3 separate regions of the Homo sapiens genome follow, and all the other regions are reported to be linked to region 1. Evidence: microRNA targets listed by miRTarBase, many of them from high-throughput screens and not tested one by one. Region 1 holds a microRNA gene; each other region holds the end of a gene's coding sequence.

Region 1 (5,000 bases):
TCTTTAAGAGTGGGAGATTGGGGATGTTAATATTTTTGCTTGCAGTAGTGTACATTTTGTAATATAGAAATAGTGAAAAAAATTGTTATTAAAGTCTCTTCAGATATATTCAATTATTAATCATGCAACAAACATTTATTGAGTACCTACCATATGTGAAACAGAGTTCAAGGTGCTATCAATACAGCTAGTCTTCCAAAGCTCGTGACCTTCAGATCTTTTGTTTTAGATTCTGTTATGAAAATGTCACTAGTGTAAGCCACATTTTTAATGCAATCAATGCCCGTTGTACAGACAGACTCATTCAGAGATTAAAGTGTGAGTTGCTTGATTTCTTTCTGCTATGCTTCAGCTCAGTTTTAGCAGTATGTATAACATCTTTTAATGTGATGTAAGTATGTAGGTATAAAGTTCCTGGATATATCAGTTATTAAGCCACAATTATAACTAAGCGTGAGTTATGGCAGAGACAACTTGAAACACTGCTAGTGATTCTAAAAATTTCCTAATTTGACGAAGAAACAGGAAACAGGTAGTATCTATTTTAGATAATTTTTTTAGATTTTACCATTCTTTAATATTTACATTTGCCAACCAGAATCAGACAATAGAATTTCTGTCATTCCAGTTTAAGCTAATAAAATGTCAAGTAGAGGTTCTTGGCTGGGCATAGTGGCTCATGCCAGTAATTCCAGCACTTTGTAAAGCTGAGGCAGGTGGATTACCTGAACCCAGGATTTCGAGACCAGCCTGGGCAACATAGCGAGACCTCATCTCTACAAATAATAAAAAGCCAGGCATGATGGCGTGCGCATGTGGTCCCAGCCACTTGGGAGGCTGAGGTGGGAGGATTGCTTGAGCCTGGGAGGTTGAGGCTGTAGTGAGCTGAGATTGCGCCACTGCACCCAGATTGCCAACCTGGGTGACAGAGCAGGATCCTGTCTCAAAAAAAAAAAAAAAAAGTAGAGATTCTTGGCTATCTCATTTAATGAGAAGTTATTTTCAGTTAGTATATCAGTGGTTTGCCTATAAACATGAACGTGAAAACACTTTTTCCAGCTATTTGAATATTCATGTGACATTCTTGATGTTCAGAGGAAAACTTCAGGCTTTGTTAGAATAGCATTCATAGTATCTTTATTTATGGAGGGGTATTGTAATTGATTTTAGAATCCTTGTTAGTCATCAAATTTTATTATTATTTTTTTAAACTCCAGGATTTGTGTTGTATTCAGGTAGTTTCCCCACCCCCGCTTCCTTTCCTGCCTCTGGTTTAATTAGAGAATATTCATGGCCCAGAAAAGTCAAATTGAAGCCAGAGTATTATAGAATGGTCAGATATATAAGAAACTGACATAGACGTAAAAGGAACTACATACTGTTGCTGGGCGTGGTGGCTCACGCCTGTAATCCCAGCACCATCTCAAAAAAAGAAAGAAATTACATATTAACTTTTTTCAGGAAGTTGTATAGTTCTAAGACCATTCTTCTAATATTTATCTTCTTTCTGAATTCTGACTTCTTGAGATTTTTGTGGACTAAGAGGAATATTTGATTAACTGTATTTTTACCCATTGTTATTCCTCCTAAAGATATTGTTTCAATAAACCAAATGTTTAAAGACGAAATTTTGGACTATACTGAAAACACTGCATATAAACCAGTTGCCAAAAGTTTTTGTTTTGGGGCCGGGCACTTTGGCTCATGCCTGTAATCCCTGCACTTTGGGAGACTGAGGCAGGCAGATTACCTGAGGTAAGGAGTTTGAGACCAGCCTGACCAACACGGCAAAAACCCTTCTCTACTGAAAATACAAAATTTAGCCAGGTGCCTGTAATCCCAGCTACTTGGGATTAGCTGCCTGTGGTAGCGCAGGCCTGTAATCCCAGCTACTCTGGAGGCTGAGGCAGGAGAATCTCTTGAACCCAGGAGGCGGAGGTTGCAGTGAGCCAAGATTGCGCCACTGCACTCCAGCCTGGGCAATAGAGGGAGACCCCGTCTCAAAAAAATAAAAAAGATGGTTTTTGTTTTTCCCTTTTAGTTTGTTAATTTTGTGCTAGCCATTGCTTAATTTTGTTTTTTCCTTTCCCTTTCTTCATCCTTAAGGATTTCAACTTCAATTTTTTCTTCTCCTGACTTATATTCTTGTGGCAGTGTACGTTTTGTTGGGTTAAGAACACTGCCTGCTTCCTCTTTATGAACTCTCTTCCCTGACAAAAAGCAAAGTTGGTAGTGTAGAGAAGTTTGTATTGTGTGTTTTTAAGAAGGCATGGTTATTACGTTTTAATTTTGTACGGATAACAATGTTAAGTGATAATTAAGTATTTTTAATTCTTTTTTTTCTTTTTAGTCTTTATAATATAGCTTTATGCCTCTTTTTTTCCTGTTTATTCACAAAAGAAAGGTGGTGGGAGAAGCTGTGGAAGATTCCTGAGTGCATATGGGGATGGGATGATCAGCTGAAACACCATGTTCCTAGCCAACTCGCTTTCCAAGGTGGTGTGACTAAATCTGACCAGCTTCTCTAGAGCTGAGTGTGCCTAGTCACATTTACTATTTACCGAGTGCTTTAAAGATACCTGTTGTCATCCGCAATACTCTAAACAGGTGTTCAGAATCTCTTGTAAAGGAGCTGGCCAAGCTTATTGCATGCCTTTGCATTGCTTGCATCTATGGGCCAAATTAAGCTTTTTTAAAAGAAGTTAAAAATCAAAATATTTCAGCTATTATATGTATGGGTTAAAAAAGTTGGAAGCATTAGATAAGGACATGAATATATTAATGTGGGTTAGGCTGTTTTGTTAGAATATATAATGAAGGTAATGTTAATGTAGAATTGAACAATTATTTAAATAAGTTTTACAAATGGTTTGTTTTTACATTTACCTATCTTAATTTTATGTCAGAAAGCCTGACTTAAATACTCTAACCATGATCATGAATGCCTTTGTATTATGTAATGCTTTGTTTAAGTCTTCCTTTCTTTCTCTTTGTCCAAGAAATATAATCTCACACCTGAGGCGACGGCATCTTTGAAAAACTAGTGATCAAGAATAACCAGATAAACATGATGGGCATAAGGGTCATGACCAAAAAGATCTCTCAGTGGCATCTGTATCACTAAATATTAGGAATATTCATTCATTTCAGTAGTGCCTTCTGTCTTTGTGTTTATTGTTGTAAGTGTGAAAGTGAACTGAATACTCCATGATCCATCTCTGAAAAATATTGCCTAACCTAAATCACCAGCTTTCCTGTGGCATGGATATCCTGTCTTCTGAAGAACTGTTTTTGCTTTTCTGGAGCATGAATGTTTGTTGTTTTAGAGCTCTTTGTATTCGAGTTCATATTTTATCCTTATTTTTAGTGCTTTTCCTCTAAGTAGCTTGTGGAAATTATTTCTGAGTAATTGAAGCTTCTGTGTCAACATAATAGTTTGTTGACATAAGAAACAGTGTTAAGAAATTATGCATTTGGAAAAAACTGAAGGTGATTTTTTCCAGGGAATTTGTTTCCTGGACTTGGGATTTCTTGTGCAAATTTTCCCCACTAGTTTGTTTTTCTCTACTATTATTTTCATAAAGGAGCAGCACCAGAATAGTCCTTAATATCGGAGATAGCTGTTGTGTCACTTCCTCATGCTGACATATTTACTAGAGGGTAAAATTAATAACCTTCTAGTAAGAGTGGCAGTCGAAGGGAAGGGCTCATCTGACTTCTGGAAACCTATGTTAAAATACAGTGCTTTGAACCTTGATCATGGGCTAATTAGGTTGGAAATGAAACTAGAGACCAGATACACCCAAGGAAACTTTTGGTAGTTATTTTACTTTATAAGTCACAGGAAATGCTTGTGTACTTTCCTGTGTTCCTTAAATAGTTGCACTTAAATTACCTCTTTGAAACTGAATGAAGAGACAGAGAGTATTTTTTTTCTTTCCAGAAATAATACTTGTTTATACCTGTAATAGCAATGAAATTTTGTTTCTTTTGAGACAGAGTTTTGCTCTGTCTCCCAGTCTGGAGTATAGTGGCAGGATCTCAGCTCACTGCAACCTCCACCTCCCAGGTTCAAGTGATTCTCCTGCCTCAGCCTCCCAAGTAGCTGGGACTATAGGTGCACTACCATGCCCGGCTAATTTTTGTATTTTTAGTAGAGAAGGGGTTTCGCCATGTTGGCCAGGCTGATCTCGAACTCCTGACCTCAGGTGATCTGCCCGCCTCGGCCTCCCAAAGTGCTGGGATTACAGGCGTGAGCCACTGCTCCTGGCCAGCAATGAAACTTGAGGCTATGCGAATGAAGGATTGTTCTAAGAGTGTAAACTATAAGGCGAGGAGGATTAAATAAAAAAACAGAGATAGGCTCTCAAAGCACCAAATAGTATGATTAACAGATTCTTGTGTATCACATTTGAAATGCTTTATGTTTTGGCTTTATGTTGATGAGTTGAAAACCCGTGTTTTTGTTTATGTTGTTTGGTTTTTGTTTTTGGCTATCTTATGTAGAAAGGCATGTAAGGGATGGCATTGATTATTCTAAATAATTTTTACTGGGAAAGCTTTTCCAAGATTTTGAATAGCTAAATGTCAACTTTTTTCTTAATAGTATTTTCATCTCAGCCTAGTGACGATGAATCAAGTAGTGATGAAACCAGTAATCAGCCCAGTCCTGCCTTTAGACGACGCCGTGCTAGGAAGAAGACCGTTTCTGCTTCAGAATCTGAAGACCGGCTAGTTGCTGAACAAGAAACTGAACCTTCTAAGGAGTTGAGTAAACGTCAGTTCAGTAGTGGTCTCAATAAGTGTGTTATACTTGCTTTGGTGATTGCAATCAGCATGGGATTTGGCCATTTCTATGGTAAGTACTCAAAAATGTGTTATACATAACCTGATGGGATAGTGTAGAGGAACTTAAGAGTGAGGACTCTTGGGATCTGTTTTCAGTGCCATTATTAAATGTGTGGCCTTGAAAACTTGAAGCCTGTTTGAGCCTCAGTTTT
Region 2 (10,771 bases), not on the chromosome of region 1:
ACTTTCCTGCAGGCCTTGGAAGCAAAGCCCCCAGGAATGACTGGAAGACAACACTCTGCAGACCCCTTCCACAGGGTACCCCTGCTCTCCAGGAAGGGCCTTCAGGGCAGCATTTGGAGGTGGCATGAGCTAGCAGCGGCGTGCAGCCTGGTCACTGTCTGATCTGGTCAGCCCAGCCGCACAGAACACCACACAGGCTCTGGCAGCTCCCTGGGAAAGAAGAAAGCAGCATCTTGCATGTGTGGCTTATTCTGAAAGGAATAGTATCTGAGGGATTTGATGGACTCTGACAGGGGGAAGAAGGTAGTGAAAAAGATGGAACAAAGATGCCATTTAAAAATACTGGCTCGTGTTCAGGATTTCGCTATTTTTTACTGCAAGGAACAAGTAAAAAAAAAAATCCTCCTATTGATGAGTATTTTTCTACAGTCATTAAAAGTCAAAGGACTCAGGGCTTCCGACTTTCCCTCTTGGGAAACCTGTAAGCTCGTCTTCTGGACAGCTTAGAAAAGGGCTGGATGGCGAAGGCGAGAGGCTTAAAGGCCCCCAGCAAGCAGCTCCGCCGAGGAACGGGTGCAGGGGACACACTGTGTTTTCAGTTCAGATTCTGTGATCTTTCTGCCAAACAGGGGTTTACAAAGCAAAAACCTCCAGAGAATTCTCATACTTTCTGGCTTATTCTCCTGGTGTTCGTCTTAACAGGAATCAGCTGTTTGCCTTCTCACTTATACAGCATGTTGCTGAGGCGAATTTAGCATCTGGCCTGGCTATTATTAAAAACAAGAACATCCTGCTCTGTTGGGAGAACAGCACCACTGGCAATAAAAGGACAGAGATCATTTGCATTCAGGATTCCAGAGATGTGTTTCAGTTCAATATCTGCGCTCCCTCCTTCCACCCCTGCTTTCATTTTAAGATTTCCTGATGCATCCATCACTTGCAGCGTGGTCAACTTTTTTTCTGAAACAGGCACACACAGGCAGAGCATATTTTTTCCTTTCACTGGGAGGCAGGAATGACTGGAGTTGTTCAAACACCGGTCCGTTCCTGCAATTCCTATGATAAAGTTGAACTACCAGAGGAATTTTTTTTTTTTTTTTTACAACTGCGGAAATGAAAAAGTAAACAAGACTGGGACTGCATTGGTATTTAGGCTCCAGCTTTTTGTTGTTGTTTTTGTCTTTCCCTTTTTTTAAGCCATTGGGCTAGGAGCCTGAAGGGACCATATAATATGAAAAACGCTGAGAGGTTTTATTAGCCAATAAAAAAAAAAACTGAGTTCCTATTAACCACTTAACTCCTTGCTGAAGTTCAAACTTGCTTTCTCCTTGGATCCTTCTCTCCCTCTCATGCCCACGAGGAATGACGGTTGGTTCACCAATCTTTCCCTGCACAACCTGAGCTCACAGTTTGTGCTCCAGAAGGTGTGGTTGAGAATCGTATTCAATAATAATCTCTGTATTTCTCATCTGTGAAGCCATAAATAAGATTTCTGTAAGGAGCCAAATGTTCTACGCCCCCAAATCTACACACACAAAGACTCTTTAAGCACTCTACTAAAAAAGAGTAAAGTCATTGTGATTTCTAGGATTTTAAATACTAAATGATGGTTAGGGAGAACAAAATCAGGCTGAAGCATTTCTGGGATAAATAATGATCCCACAAAACGCTCCTCTCATTTGGGGGCAGAAGAATGAAGGGAAACTCACAGAGAAACAGAAAATGAAATTGGTCCAACTATTTCACTGCTGGAGATAGATGGAGTTAGGATACATAGGTGACTTGGTTTAGGAAAGAGAGGATGTCGAAGGTGATTTAAATCCTAACACTGTTTTATTAATCGTGCCACAATTCTACATGTCATGTGATTTTGTTATCTGCTTTTTGCTGCTTTTAAATAAATTTGTACTTTTCTATCAATCCATCATCCAATTGTGTTTCGGGTGTTCTTGGCATTCCCATCTCTCAAAAACACCCTTAGTTTCTGCCATTATATACTGTATCTCTAATTCCACGAAGCTCACTCTATCCTATTTCCATTTTCCACATTCGGGTTAACTCTAGTACTTTTGGTCCTCCCAGAGAAATTTCCTAAGGCCACATGAGCCTGTGCGCTTTTGTGTTCTGGTCCCATTTAATGTTACTGCTCCAAGAGCTACTCCCTGAAGGGCTTATGTGGAAGAATTTTGCCTTTTTGTTAAAAGTATTTTGCTCTATGTCCTTGATTTCTTTATAAGAATAGCAGGTGGGGGAAATTCTTCCCTTTTTATTGGCTACAGAGTGGGACAGAATGACCTGGAAAGAATAGATAGCAATCAAGAAGTGAGCTATGTTTGCAGTGCTAAAACAGGAAGCAAGTTTTGCAGAAAACCCCACTAAGTGGCCTGACATCAATGCAACAAGATAATAAGAAACGAATTAAAAGACATTTTGGTAAATGTTAAATGTGTTTCCAGAAATTTGATCCCTCTGCTTCCCAAATGGCTGAGCATATCTGAATAGCAGGGCTGGATTGAGTCACAAACTTTTGAATAATAGCTTTACAAAAATTACTAAAAACTCCTTAAATGTTAGCTTCTCCCTGCTCCCTTAATTGACATATCAAGGAGCATCCAGTGTCCCTTGTCCCAGTAACCTATTTGAAGACAAGTAATTGTTTCTTTATCACTTGTGGGATAAAGGCAGTACTTTTTTTTTTTTTTGAAGAATTTGCAGAAATAAAAAACTGAGGCCAAGAAACACTGTGTCTCCTGAGTACATGTGCAGGGGTGGTGAGCCCCATCTTTCTCTGAGTGGGTGGCTGTTCAGGTACCCTTTCCAAACTTCACCCTCCTCCTTCCCTCCCTTCAGGCACACACATACCTGTGTGTGCATACACATATACACACATACACACATACACCACACCACACACAGACACATACACATGCACCACACATATACACACACATGCACATACATACACATGCACACACACCACACACATATACACACACATACACATGCACACACACACCACACATACACACCACACACACATACACACACCACACACACACATACACATGCACACACACACCACACACATACACACCACACACACACCACACACATATACACACATACACACACCACACATGCACACATACACACATAGACACACACCACACACCCGTATACACATATACACACACATATACATATACGTGCACATACACACCACACACATACACACATGCACCACACACATAAATACACATACACACATGCACCACAGACACATATACACACACATACATACACCCCACACACACACACACATACACCACACACACGCCCACACACACACATCCCTGGTGTATTACCCTTTGCGTCTTCACTGGATCCTTTTCCTTGGTAAGTTTTGATTCATAACTTTTTAAAATTTCCTTTCCAAGGCCTCCTGATTGAGTAGTTACCGCTGAGAAGCCCCTAAGAAGACACAAAGAGGCTTCTCAGGGTCCACAGCAATGGTGGTGAGGAAGGAAAGACTCCCTTGCCTTTGCTCAGAACCCAGAGTTTAAATCAAGAGTATCAGCTCTCCACATACTGGTTCCTACCTGGCCTTTCTTAGCACCTTTTCCGGGCCAGAGGAGAGAGACAATGGAAGAGCCGAGAAGGGTTGGGAGCAATTTGGAGTATACCTGGGGTGCATAGGCCTAGGGTGTAAGCCTGATTCCCAGTACCAATACCTGGACAGCTCAGGTGTTATGAACTCTTGCATGAAGATGTCCTTTCCAGCCTCACAGAAACTGACTAAGGAGTGAATGCATGAGAATTTGCTTGGGATTTTCACAGGTGAGCTGGCCCACACTCACTACAACTGGAGCAGTCAGTTGAGTTGTCCTCCACTTCCCCAGAAGAACTTAGAGATGGTGACACTGTTTCATAAGCATCCTTTTTAGATACCTCCAAATTGTTGCTTCCTAGGACTGATCTCTAAAATAATTTTCGAATAGTTAGGACAGAGAGGCCAACTGATAGCATTTCTTATTGTTAACCTGGTAATCTAGGTACAGGCAAGCCAGTACCTCCATTTCTGCAGTGGCTCTTGGCTAGGTCATTATTGTTTACCAACCATTTCCAGAGAGAATGAAAAATTAACTAATAAAGAGCTGTAGGACCTGCTCTCACTGACTGCCAATGAGGGCTTCCCTGACATCCTCCCTTGCCTTTCATACTGTTTTCAAGTCCCATAAATATAAACATGCGGCTCTTCCACTGCGTCTGTAGATAATAACTTCAGGGGCCTTCCTGTTTACATGGCAATACCCATTTCCCAGCCAAATAAACTCTATGACAGAGACCTGAGGTGTTTATTGGGCCAGTCCCGGCTGGGATTGAGTTAACAGGAAACACCCACTCTTGCAGAAATGCCTGATGATTAAATATTTGGGGGATAGGGGACACCAGGGGTCAAAAACACTGCAGAAATTGCTTTCTTCTTCCGCCTGCCGTTTCAGTGAGAAACAGGCCATGATAAATATGGCCAACCAATCCAGGCTTAACAAAGCCCCACAGCTGGGCTGTTCACTGGCTGCACAGCCCATGTTGCAGAGAGGAGTGAAGAGGTGCAGACGAAAAAGCCAACAGCAGCCCTCATGATACATCCAAATCAAGTGAAGGGATGGAAAAGGTTGAGGTGTAGCCATCACTGGGAAGTCCCTCAGCCTCTGCCTGGCTACTCTGATTTAATAAGCAATGTATTCTCATATCAGTTCTGTCAATAAAGCCTCTAGCTAAGTGGTTCTCAATCGGTGGTGATCTTGCCACCCAGGGACCATTTGGCAACATCTGGAGACATTTTTGATTGTCCTAACTAGGGAGGTGCTACTAACTTTTAGTGGGTAGAGGCTAGGAATGCTGCTAAACATCCTACAATACACAGGAGAGCATCCCTGACACACACACACAAAAAGAATTACCCAGTCTGAAATGTCAATAGTGCCAAGATCTAGCCCAATGCCTTTTCATAAACCAAGAAACTGAGACACAGAGGAATAAAGGGATTTGCCCTAGACCATCCTGATAGAGAAAACTGGAGACAGAAAGCAAGCCACTGTGACCACCTCCCTTGTGAATGCCCTTTAAAGTCACACAGATGTTTGATTTTTTTTTAAATAAATAAATCTACATCCTCAGAGTTGCAGACAAGTTCCCTGGCTTAAGCTCACCCAAGTGCTTTCAGGACATTTCCTATTCTTGGAATTTAACTATTTCCAAGATTTCTTAGAAAATAGTGCCAAAGGGTTAAGAATGAGCAGATCTTCAAGGTCTCTAACTCTCCCTGTGATGTGGGTCAGCTTGGCCACTGGCTGACCTTCTCTGCACCATGTTTTCCTGGGTCCCTATTTTAGAATTGTGGTGAGCCCAAGCATTCAGAAAGCATAGGACACAGAGAAAGCAACCTTTCTACCCCAGGTCTTCAACCTTATCACAAGGGGGGGGACTTACCAAAAATAAACAATGGCCACGGGAAAAAAAAATCTCCAAACTATAGTTATGTTCACTAGGAGAATTCTTCTGAGGCTATAGCCCTCCAGGCCAAGGTCCGTTTTTACTCATCCTTGGGCTTTGGTTGACTTTATTTTTAAGAACCCAAAAGAGATGTGGAAAGGAAAACAGACTAGCCTATATCTGGGCTGCCTGAGATCTTCTGTTGATAGCCAGAGGTTCACTTGCGGGGCCCTGTTCATGTTCTCAGAGATTAGAATCATGAAGCCATCGAGACTGCATCTATACGCCTGATAGGTCCCCCAGTTGGAATAAATGGCCTTACTCAAGGATGAGGTGAGCACTCCTTCCTTCAGACACAAGCTAGTAAGGAAGTGAGTTCACTGCTAGATTCTTTGCCCACCCCTCGCTAGGAACAGGACAAAACAAGAAGACACCGTTTACCAAGATTTTTTTTCTTCTCCCCAGTAATATAGCATCTCTTCTCTTAACTAGCCCTGGCAAGTCCTAAGACCAAACAGTGCCCAGGTGTAAGCAGGAGTAGACATCAGACTAGGGAGAAACCGTGAACAAGAAAAGACCCAAGGTACACACATAACAAAACCAAAAAAGCCATTTTATTGAAAATTAAATTCAAACTTCAAATTAATATTACAATCATGAGAAAAATGCCAAATAATTCAATTTACAGTTGCAACATACAATACAAATAGTCCCTTTGAAGTTAAGAGTAAACTCATCCACAATCATGACCTGTGGCACAAAGCGGAATTTTTACAATATGTGCATGGAAAGCAATTCTTGGGCAATAGCAATTGGAAAAAATAAAAATGAAAGCTTGTATTTACACAAAATGCTACAAATATTTTTGTTCCACAGAAACCTAAGAATGGTAAAGCATATCCAAAAGAAATGGAATTTTATTCAGAATACCTAAGAAATTATTGTAAGTTATGGTTTTGGCTGATATATTTCAAAGTACTGCATTAAAAAGCAAACAGTTATTTGTAAACATGAAGTAAACACACATCTAAAAAATTCTCACATAGAAAATATTTTTAAATGCATTCGTTTTCTAAAAACAACAAATTCAAGGTTTGGAAGAAGTGTCTTTTATTATTGTTCTTTCAAATACCATAGGTATAATTATTACTTTTGCTAATGCTTCGTGTTTCCATGTATTAACCTGGATTCTGGGCCAGTCCCTTTCCTCGGAATTGAGGGAATCCTTAAAGCTGTACACACATCTCCTCCCTTCTGAATTTATCACAGATGGTCCCTAATGGTGTGGACTTCTCTGCTCATTTTGAAAGGGCTCTGGCAAGTGAGAGGCAGTGAGACCGTCTAAAGAGCAAACGATAGTTAATCTGTTGAGTTTCTCAGTTCTGGGCTGAATGTTATTCCACTAATCTAAAACCAAAGCTGTGGTACCTGTTCTGGAACTCTGATATGGGTTAAAATTTGTGAGACAACTGAAATGGATAAAAATGTGGCTGCATTGAAAAGACTGCAAATTCCAGCAATGTTTGTGCTACAAAGAGAACCACGCTATTTTAATTCCCAGGAACTAGTACATGGTTCCACAGTAGTAGTAAGACTTTGCTTTGGTCTTGAAATCACAAATCAAACACATGACCCAGTGCAAATTAAGGGTTCAGTGAAAAAAAAAAAAAAAGAAAGAAAGAAAAACAAAATTTTAATCCCTAGACCAAAAAAGGGCAGAATTTGTTCTAAGAAATGTGAATTACCCCCATTGGGGTGGTTGGAGTGAGGGTGGAGGGAAGAAGTGCTTGAATTTTTCCCAAGGAAAAAAAGCTTCTAAAGTGTTTCTGGGTTGCTGCCTGCAGCCACTATAGTAACATTTCAACACAAAAGCATCCCTAAAGTCACTCGGTATGTGTACTGTAAACTTAAAAAAGCCCTTTTAACATTAAAAAATAATGTACAAATATAGTACCTTTTTAATTAAATAGGATGCAGCTGGCACTGGCGGTAGCATTTTTATGTCAATTAATTAAAATTGAAATGTGTAACCAGACACTGGCTTTTTTAAGTGCTGCTGAAACAAACACACATATTTTACACTTACAAATAAATGGACAGTGGTGTGCTTCAAGCTACCACACACAAACAATAAATAGTATCAATTACTACTTCCTTCTTACTTAAGTAATAGAAAAGTGGCTTATTTATCTAAGCATACTTGGTATACGGCCTTTAGAAGGCAAAGTGTTTTGCTTTCCCATCCATTTTTATTAGAAGGAGTCAGGATGAATTCCAAGGGAGACTCCCAGGCAGGAAGCACAGGTCCAGCTGCCCCACACGCTGTCCTGCAATGCTGGGTGGCCTACAAAGGTGGGTTTGAGAAGGACCAGAGAACAAGGGGGCCGTTAGGGTTTGAAGGCAAATCTCTGCTAAATTCTGCTTGGGTGGGTGGAGGATTCCAATGAAGGGACCCTGACTTTTCGGGGAGGAGAGCAGGGATTGGCCTGGTGGTGTCATTAGATGATCCTTGTTTGGATTAAGGATTTGCACTTGGAAATCTGCCATGTGACTGCCAGGAGTGGTCAAAGTGCATGCCACAGAAGGACTCTAGCTCAAATTCATACACACTAGTAGACACCAAACTCCACAGCCCCTTGCCCTCCTTGGCCCTCCATTGTAAGAAATACAAATGTCAAAGGCTGTCTGTAGGTCCCCGTGGGCCATATGTCCTCTCAGCTCAGCTACCTGCTGGAACCTGCTGCCTTTTCAGAGGACCTACTCCCAAAGGACAGTGATGTCATTCTGCTCCTCTAAATGCAAATTCTGTGGAAAGCTGCCAGTGGGGCCTTGGGTAAGGCAGATTGGGGTTCCCCTGTTGTGTTGTTTGGTAAGGCTGGTTGGTTAAGAATCTCTGGTGCAATTTTGCTCTCCTGTACTAGGTGTCTCATAATTGAACCCTCTATCCACATGTGCGGCTTTTAGCTGACTATGTCTTTGCTATGAAGCCTGGCGATTTAGAGTTTTGCTTAACTATGAAACCACAGAACATTTTTCTGTAGTTCAATGATTTACTTGTGCTTGTCTTTTTAATATGACAAGAGTCATAATTACCCCAAAGAAATTAGAAAACCACATCACTCCAGCATTTCATGCTGATAAAGGGCTAAAGGTTGTTTTTTAAATCCCTAATTACCGCTTTAGAAGGCAAAGCTGTGTTAGAGGCATTCAAAGATCTGAAAGAACTAAACATAACATTTCCTTCATACATCACAAAAACAATCTATATCTAAAATATTTGGAGATGGAAGTATTTTTTAAAATCACATTGTGCCTGGATGAACTGAAATTGCTTAGCAATATTTCAGATATGGCTCTAGACCACTGAAGAAATTTGTTATTTAATAAAGAGCACTTTTAGAGACCGAAGTCAACATATCAATACACTAAGAAATGTTTCAAGGGTCCAAATGTCATTAAATAATTATAAATATATCTTTAAAGTTATATGACCATTCACGTTAGCAAGTTACCTCAGATTTTACACATATTCATAATTTAAAAAAAAAGAAAACAACACATAGCCAAACGCAATCACTATCTATACCATTATGGCTATAATAATGTATTGCCATTTTCAGTTTTGCATAAAAGGAGAAGGCAGGTTTTAGGGATGGGATTTCTTTTTGGTTCAGTGGGAAAAGGGGAGAAGGAGTGTTAAAAAGTAAAATAAAATAATCTATCCTGATCAGTTATTTTTGAAGTCACTTTCTTGGAGCAGGAAAAAAAAAAAAAAAAACGAACCCAACAGTTCAGATGAGGACCTGCAGCATGTCTGAAAGCAGAAATTGGAAGAGTTATTCTGAATGATGGTACTGTGATGGAAGCATCCATTCTACCTCATGTCCCTTTAGTGCACCTCAACTGGTTTTGTGAGCTGTCTGCGGAGGGCACTGGTCCATACACAGCTGCCACCGTGAGGGTGTGAAGTTTCAAAGCACAGAGAGGAAGCGGCTTTGCTCTTCTCCCTCCTGAACCTGGAGTCCACCTCTCTGAATTGGCATATGAACAGGTTATTGATGATAACAGACCAAACAACAAAAACAAAAATACCTTTTCCCTTCTTTGTTCCTTTGTAAAAGTACATCTTAAATAGTAAACAATCTGAAGCTCGATTGCAATTGTCTCTCTTGAGCCTTCTGCTTCTCAATATCTACCCTCTTATGGCTGCAAGATCATGACTGAGTGAGTGAATGAAAAATCTTCTAAAAAATAGGCACTTTGTAGATAGCTAATCGATATACATATATATGCACTCTCTCTATATATGTATATATTGATACGTGTGGGATGTGGCCCCCAGATACCACTGGGCCACTGCTGAGGAATTTCAATATGGTCGCCAAACAGATTCATCCATTCTGCCACTAGAATTCAAAACAGTTGGGGAACTGCTGTGGCTTCCATCAGCGTCAACACCATCATTCTGGTTAGGCAAATTTGGATTTAATAGCGTGCTGCCATTCGAGGTGGTGGTGCATGGCGGAAGCATTCTGGAAGGAGACCGGTCTCCCCCCGGCACCATGGGAAACTGATAGGATCCTGACGAAGTGCCATAGTAGAGATATGGAGTGCTGCTGGTCTGGAAGGGTCCACTCTGGCTTTGGGAAGAGCCGGGGTAGGGTGGTGGCAGGTAGGTGTGGTAGTGAGTGGTGGCGGACATACCGAGGGACATGCCTGAGGTGACTGGCGGGGTGTAAGTAAAGGTGGCTGGATAGTGCATTCGTGGGTTGGAGAAGCGGCTCTCAGTGAGGGATGAAATGCTTGGGAACTGCCTGGGGTCTGAAAAAGGGCCCAGTTCTGAAGCACCTAAAAATTATAACAGAAGATGGAGGGAAAAATCTGTAAATATCAATTAAAATAATGATAGAATTGTTACAAGAAAAAAAAAGAGAAAACTTTAGCTTTCCCATAAAGGAACAGCAAGCCACAGACAGACCTTCAAATGCACCAGTCACTTTACAGTCTTTTTCCCCCACTTTGCAGTCTTAACAGCATTGATCCTTAAGTTCTTCACCCCCAGAGAATCCCAGAGGGCTTTAAAAACCCACATGTGTGCCAGGTCAATGTGTAAACCAACCCAACACTCTGATCACATAGGTTCACTCACCAGACTTTAAAACCAAATCCTCATGGATTTTTTTTCTCTTTTTGCTTCTCGTTGCACTTTAGATATTTGAAGTGAAATTTTTACTAAGTCAGACAAGTTTATTTTCCTCAACTCAATATAAAGAAA
Region 3 (5,000 bases), not on the chromosome of region 1:
ATGGGAGGTTCTCTGGATGAAAGGTGTGGCAGCAATGGACATTGTAATGAGAATGCCCGTGTGCCTCTTTACCAACAGAAAACTTGGAATATAACGTGGAGCCTCAAGAAATCTCACACCCTGACGTGGGACGCTATTTCTCAGAGTTTACTGGCACTCACTACATCCCAAACGCAGAGCTGGAGATCCGGTATCCAGAAGATCTGGAGTTTGTCTATGAAACGGTGCAGAATATTTACAGTGCAAAGAAAGAGAACATAGATGAGTAAAGTCTAGAGAGGACATTGCACCTTTGCTGCTGCTGCTATCTTCCAAGAGAACGGGACTCCGGAAGAAGACGTCTCCACGGAGCCCTCGGGACCTGCTGCACCAGGAAAGCCACTCCACCAGTAGTGCTGGTTGCCTCCTACTAAGTTTAAATACCGTGTGCTCTTCCCCAGCTGCAAAGACAATGTTGCTCTCCGCCTACACTAGTGAATTAATCTGAAAGGCACTGTGTCAGTGGCATGGCTTGTATGCTTGTCCTGTGGTGACAGTTTGTGACATTCTGTCTTCATGAGGTCTCACAGTCGACGCTCCTGTAATCATTCTTTGTATTCACTCCATTCCCCTGTCTGTCTGCATTTGTCTCAGAACATTTCCTTGGCTGGACAGATGGGGTTATGCATTTGCAATAATTTCCTTCTGATTTCTCTGTGGAACGTGTTCGGTCCCGAGTGAGGACTGTGTGTCTTTTTACCCTGAAGTTAGTTGCATATTCAGAGGTAAAGTTGTGTGCTATCTTGGCAGCATCTTAGAGATGGAGACATTAACAAGCTAATGGTAATTAGAATCATTTGAATTTATTTTTTTCTAATATGTGAAACACAGATTTCAAGTGTTTTATCTTTTTTTTTTAAATTTAAATGGGAATATAACACAGTTTTCCCTTCCATATTCCTCTCTTGAGTTTATGCACATCTCTATAAATCATTAGTTTTCTATTTTATTACATAAAATTCTTTTAGAAAATGCAAATAGTGAACTTTGTGAATGGATTTTTCCATACTCATCTACAATTCCTCCATTTTAAATGACTACTTTTATTTTTTAATTTAAAAAATCTACTTCAGTATCATGAGTAGGTCTTACATCAGTGATGGGTTCTTTTTGTAGTGAGACATACAAATCTGATGTTAATGTTTGCTCTTAGAAGTCATACTCCATGGTCTTCAAAGACCAAAAAATGAGGTTTTGCTTTTGTAATCAGGAAAAAAAAAAATTAATGAACCTTAAAAAAAAAAAAAAAGGTTTTGAAGGGAAAAAAAGTGGTTTCACACCTCTTGTTATTCCTTAGAGTCACTTCAAGGCCTGTTTGAATGTGGCAGGTTAGAAAGAGAGAGAATGTCTTTCATTTGAAGAGTGTTGGACTTGTGTGAAAGGAGATGTGCGTGTTGGAATCTGCTTTTCCAAGCCGCCAGGGTCCTGACGGCAGCAGGACGAAGCCTGTTGTGGCGTCTTCTGGGAAAGCCTGACCGTGTGTTCGGACGGCACTGGCTCCTTTCCGAAGTTCTCAGTAACTGAGCCCAGAGTAACTGCACGCCTTTGTGCAGCTCTGGAGCTCCACCAACTCTCGGCCTGCCAGTTCTCAAGCGAGCTAATCTTGTCATTAATCGATAGAAGCTAACTTCCGAAGTTAGGACCTAGTTACTTTGCTCTCAACATTTAAAATAATGCAGTTGCTCTAGTGAATGGGGCGTTAGGGGCCTGTCTCTGCACCTGTCTGTCCATCTGCATGCAGTATTCTCACCCATGTTGAATGCCTGCTGCTTGTTTACCCTTTGGAAACCCTGGGGTGACCAAGGTTTGGAAAGCCACCTGAGACCACTTCATAGCAAGGGAAGGCTTTAAGCAGTTACTAGAAAGAGATGGGGATTTGGCCCCTGGCTCCTCCAGCCTGAATGAGCTATTTAATCCACTGTCCATGTTCCTCATCAGTCAAATCCAAAGTCAAAGGATTTGAACCTGCATCTGGAAACGTAACCACTCACAGCACCTGGCCCGCCAAGGTTGGGAGGATTGTACACTACTTTCATTTAAAGGGGAAAGTTTGATAATACGGAATTAATTAATATGAATGAGATGCATTAATAAGAACCTGAGCATGCTGAGAGTTGCAATTGTTGGTTTTCTGGTTTGATTGATTTCCTTTTTTCTTAGACACATCAAAGTCAAGAAAGATGGTTTTACCTTTACTGACCCAGCTGTACATATGTATCTAGACTGTTTTTAAATGTCTTTCTTCATGAATGCTTCATGGGGCTCCAGGAAGCCTGTATCACCTGTGTAAGTTGGTATTTGGGCACTTTATATTTTTCTAAAAACGTGTTTTGGATCCTGTACTCTAATAAATCATAAGTTTCTTTTTAAAAATTTTCCAAAACTTTTCTCCATTTTAAAAAGCCCTGTTATAAACGTTGAACTTTCACAATGTTAAAATGTTAAATATTTGGATATAGCAACTTCTTTTCTCTTCAAATGAATGCCAAGATTTTTTTGTACAATGATTAATAAATGGAACTTATCCAGAGAAACCACGCAAATGGCCTGCCCAATTTCGTTTGAGGACAGAAAGCCCAGCCATGACTTGAGTAGAATGTCTCTCACCTCTCTTCGGATCTAAATATGAAAAGTATGTTCTGCTGAATTTTTCTGAGCATTGGTGAGCGGACAGCCTACCTGTAAACCATGACCTCCTTGCCAAACGTTAATTTTATCAGCTCACTAGTAACCTTTGAGAATTATCTGGTTGTCATGCAAAGATTGCACTTTCTGAATTATGTTAAAACACATGTTGTAAAATGAGAACTGCTCATGCTTTGAAAGAAAACCAGGTTCTTCGTGCGTTCTGTTGCCGTTGATTTGAATGGCTGTGCTGTATACGATGTGTCCAGAATGTCTTCAGAGCACTGTTTCCGTGTGATGTTACTACCTACTATGTGGGAGGAAAAAAGGTTATAGGTTAAACAAAGTCAATTGACTCTATGGTGGTGTTTCTCAATACCTGTGACGCACAGTACTGTGCGTCGTGACTTTCTAAGAGAAGTGTGCAGCGGGTGTGTCATCTTGATATATGAAACCCTGGAATTTCCCTCCCCTACACGCACGCACCGTCCCCGGGGGTCCGGTGTTTGCAGACATGCTTTGAAAAGCTGTCTCAGTGAGACATCAGTTATGTCCAAAATGAGTTTACCTTAGAATCAGACCGGTTTTGCCAGGCGTCATGTTTGCAAACATTATCCACCTAATCAGATTTTGAAAGGCCGGCTTTCATGTCGCCTGCCTGAGACTCATAACAGATCCCCATTATAAGCGCGTTTACACAGCAAAATGATTTTATTGAGAAAACCAGCATTAAGTACTGTTGCCGGCTCAGTTTTCCATTGCATACTATCTACTTAAAGTCCCGTTCTCATTTGTAAGTGTTCCGATCTTTCCCCACGGAGAAAACTGAGCAGAGCTGCCGTGTCGCAGGCTTTCTGCTGCTGATGTCGCATCTCTTTGCTTTCCCCTCCTTAGTCCATACTCCAAGTAAGTGAACTCAGACTACCAGCAACTTTTTAACTGAAAAGTATCTGTCCATGATGATCAAGATGCAGCTCTTCGTGTTTTTATTTTGTCTTTTTTTTTTTTTTTTTTTTTTGGAGGGAAGGAGAGACATCAACTGGACAAAATGCAAAATTTGGATGTGGGACAATTGCTTTTTGGAGACGTGAATAGCTGTACTGTACGTATTATTTTGTGTGGCATGCTAACTTTGAGCCGGGCACTGGCCTAATAAAGTCTTTGTAATCCTCCCAGCAATCCTATAAAGCAGACGCAGATAGTAAAGATTTTAGGCTTTGCAGGCCACGTACAGACTGTCACATGTTCTCTGTTTTTAAAAGTGTCAACAACATTCTTAGCTCAAAAACAGGCTGCAGGTGGGATGGTGCCCACAGGCCATAGTTGGCTGACCCCGGCTAGGGTGTAGGCACTTAGCATTCCACTGTATAAAGGGGAAACCCAGGTCATACTGCGTGTGCGTGGGTGGGAAGCCGGATGTGGAATACAGGTGGTCCCTGAGTCTCCAGGAACCACTGAGCTCCAGCTGTTCACACCCACACTCTGCGGCGCAAGCAACTACCTCGCCACGGTTTAGCCTTGGTCTAGCAGCGACTTTAACCTTGAATGTTGCATTTCTGAAAAATTTAGAATCTTGAAAGTAAAGGACGTCCCTCCGGTGAATAAAATTAGGCGCAATTATAGAATACATGTATTATGGCCACGTAGCAATGACTGTATTAGGGCTCTGCTAGTTCTGTAATAAATAGACCCGAAAAGCAACAATGGCTCAAACACCATAGAACGTTTTTGCTTCCATAATATTGGGCAGGGGAATGGGCTGGCAGGGCAGCCCTTATGCAGGCAGGCATCAGAGCAACCTGAGCCGTCCATCTCCATCCCGCCTGAAGTAGCGGGGAGCATGGAGGGCTGAGACCATCTGGGAGCTTCCATGAGCCAGGTGTGGAAGTGGCACCCCTTATGTCCACTCATTTTGCACGGAGGTGGGAAACGTCCAGTTGTGTTCTAGGAAAGGAGACAGAACACAGTGTGGGTGGAAGCTCTGGTCCACTGCACGGGCCACTCCAGTGTGCTCCTCCACCGCAGGAGACAGCCACGGACAGCTAAGCCAGGCTGTCCGTGGGGACGGACACATTTCTGCAGTCTCCGGCTCAGTCGCCCCTGCCTAAGTAGCACATAGAGGCAGTGGAGTTCCCTTCAGATGGCACTGTCTGTGTACACTCACGGTCTCCACCGCAGATGGCTGCAGCAGCGGGGAGCAGACCTCTCACCGCGTGGGTCACATGCACTACCTCTGCCTCAACAGCCAGATCTCAAGTGGCCGGCCACACCTTCGTTCCAGAGGAGGTGCCAAATGGTTTCCTGTGGGCCCGAAAGGAAGAGAAAAGGTTTGGTGG

The links. Region 1 holds the annotated microRNA hsa-miR-628-3p (UCUAGUAAGAGUGGCAGUCGA, at 3,677-3,697, shown strand). A microRNA usually pairs through its seed, bases 2 to 8, with sites in the 3' UTR of a target mRNA and lowers its output. Matches are read on the target gene's strand: a 7mer-m8 pairs with bases 2 to 8, a 7mer-A1 pairs with bases 2 to 7 and ends in A, and an 8mer does both.
Region 2: the mRNA of RUNX2 is a reported target of hsa-miR-628-3p. The part of its 3' UTR that is shown has no 7-base or 8-base seed match.
Region 3: miRTarBase lists FBXO21 as a target of hsa-miR-628-3p. Seed matches in the 3' UTR shown: 8mer at 1,895-1,902.

Annotation. Positions count from the first base shown.
Region 1 is chr15:55,371,651-55,376,650 of GRCh38, reverse strand. MIR628 (microRNA 628) reads left to right here and starts at 3,617; the gene lies at 3,617-3,711. CCPG1 (cell cycle progression 1) reads left to right here. Exons shown (of 9, transcript NM_001204450.2): 6 at 4,607-4,858. DNAAF4-CCPG1 (DNAAF4-CCPG1 readthrough (NMD candidate)) reads left to right here. Exons shown (of 16, transcript NR_037923.1): 13 at 4,607-4,858.
Region 2 is chr6:45,546,400-45,557,170 of GRCh38, reverse strand. RUNX2 (RUNX family transcription factor 2) reads right to left here. Exons shown (of 9, transcript NM_001024630.4): 9 at 6,089-10,344. The coding sequence ends at 9,866. Among named protein-coding and RNA genes, the nearest start is that of RUNX2-AS1, 25 kb to the left of the region's middle.
Region 3 is chr12:117,141,356-117,146,355 of GRCh38, reverse strand. FBXO21 (F-box protein 21) reads left to right here. Exons shown (of 12, transcript NM_015002.3): 12 at 79-4,365. The coding sequence ends at 269. It overlaps TESC-AS1 (TESC antisense RNA 1), which reads right to left. Exons shown (of 3, transcript NR_120464.1): 3 at 4,867-4,965. Among named protein-coding and RNA genes, the nearest start is that of TESC-AS1, 44 kb to the right of the region's middle. RefSeq lists enhancers at 2,885-2,964, 2,365-3,564.